2 separate regions of the Homo sapiens genome follow, and region 2 is linked to region 1. Evidence: fine-mapped expression QTL. A gene starts in region 1. The other region holds a variant in brackets. All regions are shown on one strand. Distances are between the middles of the regions.

The links. PIP is the estimated chance that this variant, and not a neighbour inherited with it, causes the effect.
Region 2: its variant is fine-mapped to the expression of WNT2B in fetal neocortex (Walker 2019, PIP 0.95).

The regions. Positions count from the first base shown.
Region 1 is chr1:112,507,857-112,510,356 of GRCh38, reverse strand. It overlaps WNT2B (Wnt family member 2B), which reads right to left and starts at 1,392. Exons shown (of 5, transcript NM_024494.3): 1 at 913-1,392. The coding sequence starts at 1,094. RefSeq lists enhancers at 157-656, 1,581-2,124 and silencers at 756-1,050, 1,044-1,153, 1,214-1,293, 1,354-1,463, 1,474-1,603.
Region 2 is chr1:112,456,704-112,459,719 of GRCh38, reverse strand. It overlaps CTTNBP2NL (CTTNBP2 N-terminal like), which reads right to left. Exons shown (of 6, transcript NM_018704.3): 6 at 1-3,016. The coding sequence ends at 2,308. Among named protein-coding and RNA genes, the nearest start is that of MIR4256, 3.6 kb to the left of the region's middle. The variant TGACC/C (reference allele first, on the strand shown) is at 1,392.

The sequences.
Region 1 (2,500 bases):
CTGCTTTGCCCTCTCCCCATGGTGGGGAAGAAGGGAAAGCAGCTCCTTCTCCTACGGGAAGGTGATGAGTGCCATCCAAGGAGTAGGGGGCAGGGAGGATTCTAAAAAGAACAGACACGAGACATCCAGTGGATCTGTAATGCCTTTTTGCCTCATCTGCCCTCTTGTGAAGTGTCTGGAGTCTAGGGCCTGCAAGAAATCTGGGGAGGGGGTCTCTTAGTATCTTGGGACTCCGCAGCCCTCTGGCTCTTGGAGGGGAGAAATGGGAGATGGGAAAGAATAGGAAGAAGGGAGGGAGGCAAAGTTTCCTAAGTGACATCCTCAAAACGGTGGCTGAAGACAAATGCCTAGATAATGCAAACCCATGCGTTTTGTTTGTTTTAATTGTGGGAGTTAATGGGGTAAATTTTGCCTCGATTCCATTTCTAAGCCTCGGCTGGGTGCTGCTGCCTCACCAAAGCCTTCCTGTGGTATGGGTGGGCTAGACTAGCGAGCTGCCCCTTTCTCCACCTCTCAGAGGGCGACCTTAGGCGATTGGGGCCCTGGCGAAGCTATTGCGGGCCCTGGAAGGTTATTCGTTCCTTGAACTCACCCTGAGGGAAACTCGGAAGGTAGCTTCTGCCCTAAGGGGCTTGAGCTGAAATAGAGGGGGTACAGCACGTGGAGGCCTAAGGAGCCGCGACCACCGGGCATCCTTGCTCCGAATGCCCAGCGCCTTTCTCACCAGTCGTGTAAGACGCGGCGCCTCACCCTCCCGCCACCCCGCGACTTCAGATTTCAGTGACAGTCCTGCCCGAATCGTCTCCAACCCGTCGAAGCAACAGCCTGGTCCCGTGAGCAGCCAGTCCCTCCAGGCGCCTCCGGCCTCTCCTACCAAGCGCCTCACCCGCCCAGCCTGAGAGCCACACTTACCACCAGGACGTGTCTACGCGGGCCGGCAGCGTCAGCAGCAGCAGGAGCAGAAGGCAGGCAAGACCTAGGCGGGCCGAAGCCCGGGAGCCGTCGGGGGCCGCGGGCGACGGCACAGGGACCGGGGCGCTGGCGCGCCGAAGCGGGAGCTGCGCAGCTTCCTCCGCACCACCCGGTCTCAGCATAGCTCCCCGAAGACTCCCGCCGCGCAGCCCGGAGGGGCGTGGACGGGGCACCTTCTGGGGGTACTCAGGCTGCTCCTACCTCACCCCCCTGGGGGGCCATGGTGTTCGCCGGCGGCTGGGGACCTAGGATCACCTGGGGTCCAGAGCCCGGGAGGAGGATCCCCGAGAGGGGCGCAAGTTGCGATGTCCGGAAGCCGACGACGGCGTGCCGAACCCGGGGTCTGGGGCGCGCTGCCTGAGGACCGGGTGCGGTGTCAGGGGGTCTGCGGCGCTGAAGGGAGCTGCGGGCCTAGTGTGCGGACAGCCCCTTCGGCCGCGGGCTCTCATTGGACGGGACGGGGCGGGGCCGAGGCCGGGGACACGCGCGGCCCTTAGGGCGGCTCCGCCCGCGCCAAGCCCGGGGCGCTCCGCGACGCCCTAGGTGTAGCAGCCGCCTCCGCCCCTCGGGGCTCCCGCGCGCCACCGCGCTGCACCCCCACCTGCTCCCGCACGCTGCGACGGGACGCCGCGGCTCCCTCCTGCGCCCCAAGCGCCCAGTCCCTGCCGACACCGCGCCACCGGGTCCTAGCGCCCTTCACTCAGCAGCCCCACTTCTATGGGTGACGGCCAGGCTGGCGGAGCGGGAAGGGGATGCGGGCACTTCCCTCCTGTCCCCAACCTACAGTGACACCGGCGCTGAGCACGGAGGATGCACTCATTTCCTCCATCCTTGCGCTTCTGTGAAATGGGTAGAGTCCCTGCCACCGGGAGTTGGAGGTCTTAACTACCTTTTCAACACTGCCTACAGGAGCGCCGTGGGCAGTCGGCTTCTAGCAGGGGATGCTTTCAGCTAGAGCTCATCGCCCCTGCTTCTTCTGAGCCACTGCACCCCCCACCCCCAATGCATCACGTTTAGACCTGGCTCCTGCTTGCCCGGCCTGCCCGGCCCGGGTGCTTTTCTTTACGGACCGGGAATCGACTGCCGACGCTAAGGGGGCACCTGCGGACTCCCCGCCCCTTACTCCTGGGCTCAGCGGAGCTCAGTCTCTCCCCGCTCCCCCTCTGTGCCTCGGTCCTCCACCCTCTCGGGCGGGGCTGAGAGTATGAAAGAATCAGAAACAGCTGGGAGGTTTTCCCGCACCAGAGGCCAGGGTGGGGGTCCTGCCGAGAGAGTGGAAGCCCTGGAGCTTTTTCCCTCCTTCGTCTTCTCGCCCTGCCTCCTCCCCACTGCTCCTTCACCCTCCCTCCGCCCGCACAGCGCCTGGGGGCGTGGTAAATAGGGAAGGGGTGGGGAGGTGCAGTCTGCCGAAAGAGACTCTCCTCTCCCCACCACCCCAACCCTCAAACCTCCCAGGATAGCAGGTACGGGCCCTGCGGGCACTGTGGCCCTCCGTCAGAAGTAAAATTCTTTTTAAAATCCTGGGCTT
Region 2 (3,016 bases), 51 kb after region 1:
CTCCAGTTTAGAAAGTTTAGCTATTTTATCAACACTATTCGTTTTGGCTCTGCATAGGAATAAAGTTCAATGCATGATTGCCTTGGACAGTTTAAGATACCCCCTACATCATTTTGATAGACACCTTGGGGCATTAGTAGCATTTTTATTTTTCATGTATTTGCCTTTATCAAACTATAAGCTGTGGAGTTGCCAATATACTCCATTGTGATTTATACACTGATTTCCATCACCTGCCTTTTTACTATCAACTCTTATTAGATTAAAAGGAAATAGACTTAAATTATAGCAGGAGGTCAGGGCTGCTGGATAGATGTTGGCTCAGAGAATGTATGTGAAGACACCAAGGCCTCTCCTGTATGGACACAAAATCATATAACCACTGTGTCTGAGCTGGGTTGTGGATAGTCTTATTTGGCAGAGGGGGATAGCCATTATATTCTATGAACCTTGCCAGCTGTACTGGCCTACACAGTTGGAAAGTTTGGAGGCTTTTGTCCGCATAGACTTGCTATGATGAAAATGACAGAAGTTTCTAGAATGAAAGAGGTTGCAACTTGGCAGCTTGCAAGCTAAATCCAGCTGCAGACGTGTTTGTTTAACCAGCACCATTTAAACATTTTAAAATCACTTCTTGATATTTAAAAATGAGAATGTTTCTCATGAAAATTTGGATTTCAAAAAATGTGAAGAACTGGTAATCCTGGTTTAGCATTCTTGCACCGCAGCAAGCAGATGGAGCTGAACAGATGCCCTTTTTAAATGCGGCTTGGGCACTTTAGTTTGCCACAGCTCCCACTGCTCCCAGCTGTTTTACATCGCTTGTGTGAGAGGCCTGTTTCACTCATTTATATGACCAGTTGAGTTTTGTGACACTGGGGTTAGTTTAGCTCTGCCTATTTATTTTTTTAATAGAGATGGGGTCTCACTATGTTGATGAGGCTGGTCTTGAACACCTGGTCTCAAGAGATCCTCCCATCTCAGCCTCCCAAAGTGATAAGATTACAGGCATGAGCCACTGTGCCTGGCCAGCTCTGCCTTTTTATGATACTGAAGATCTAGGCTTCATTTGGAATTTCCTCACCTTCCTGTGGACAAAATTCCTCCTTTGATTGTGTCCCAGCCACATCTAGTTGCTTCGGTAGGTAATCTTAATGTGCAGTTCTACTTGTCCTTTATGCTATATTGCAAACTCCAAAGATATAATCACACTAGTATTTATGTGTTTAAGTGTGTGTATGTTAAACATGTAAAGGGGTAATGTATCTATACAGATATATGTATACTTCCCATTTAAGCAAAAGTTAATTTGGTTTTACAGATACAGATACCAGGTTCTGGCAGCTTGGAGAATAAGTGTAACAATTTGGTAAAACTTGTATAATTCTGAC[TGACC/C]TATAATATTACAGAGTGAATTTCAAGTTATTGCTTTTTGATTACAGAATAAAAAATTCATTCTCTTGCAAAACTTTTATACAGAATGAGTAACCATTTCCTATTCAAGTAACAGCAATCAGAATCAGAAGTTCCTTACACAACAGTAGATGCTTGAGACATTTTTTGAATGGAGATGTGATTTCATTCTGTTCAAGAACTTATGCAGGAAACTGGGAGTGACTTAATTTTTCAAAAGTACAAGAAAATCAGCACCCCAACTGCTTAGTGCTCAGGAGGGTTTCTCAAGGGCTCTATAAAGCTCAGCTTGTGGTGAGTTCACACCCACCTTTAGAAGGATTCCCATTCTACTTATGCAGCCTTGTTTCAGAACACAAAGCTTGTATTAAAACATTAAAAGAGGATTAAAAGCAGTGTTGGTTTTTAACATTCAGAATTCACAGAGGATCTCATTTTCTGTAATTAAATGATCTATTTTGTGTTTTTTGCTGCAGAATCACATTCATATGGCAGTCATATTTCAGGCACTTTTAAAACATGTTCATCTGGAATAAAAATCTGCATGAACCACTTCTGCATAATTCAAAATGAGTGTTGAGTGATTCTAGTTCTCAAATAGATAGCAAATCACCACCTGGTGATTCGCTTTCTTCATCACAACATGACGGTGACTGCTGAGCTTGAGACATCTTTGAGGTGCCTTTCTGGCTTCAGTAAAAAGATGTGAGCCATAAAAATCCAAACTACTCAGTTTCTACTTAAAAAAATACAAAATGGTGAAATATACTAAATGTATTATACAGATGGTTTCAGCTACTATCAAAATAAATAACATAATCTGACTCAGAAGTCTGACTGAGCTTTTGGACGAAATCTGATGGAATGTCAAACGTGGAGACTCCCTCCTAGGGACTAGCTGCTGGTAGGCAAAAGTAACTCAACATCCTTACCATTTGCTACAACAGTATTGGAAGAGCAGCTGCTGGCAAGGTCTTCTGCAGTGGTCAAAGAGGCTGCCTGGGAATGAGTTTTGGTCAATGGAGTGGTAGCAGATGGAGAAGGGGTGAGGCCAGGTTTCTTGGGTGGGATGGGTGGAGGGTTTCCTCTCTCAGCTCTGGGGATGGTTGGGGACTTGATTCCTGGAGACAGGGGGCTCAGGGGACTGGACACTTTCCCTGGAGTAGGTGAATGGCTTGTGTCACCTCTTGGATTGGCAGTGTTGGCTAGATTTCGATAGTCTGTGCCAAAGGGAGAGCTGTTGGGAGAGACTGGCTTGATTGGCCCTTGTTGGCTAGTGAATCTGGAGAGCACCTGAGTGACTGTGTTTCGGGCCAGCTGCTTGGCGGCAGAGTTGTCTATGAGGGTGGGGGATAAATCCCTGGATGGAGGGCTCTGTAGGCCACTGGCTTGTTGGTCCTGATCTGCTTGGGACTGAAATTTGTGGCGAGCTGCATGGAACCGTTGGTTGATCCCTACTTGGTACGATGACTGGTAGCCAGGGCTGCTAGCTGATGACCCCAATAAACGCTTAGTGAGTACCGGCGAAGAGCAAGGAGAGGATGTTAGAGAGGAGGAGGCAGTGCTGCTGGGAGACAGTGAGCTCCCACTGGAAGAGAGGGGA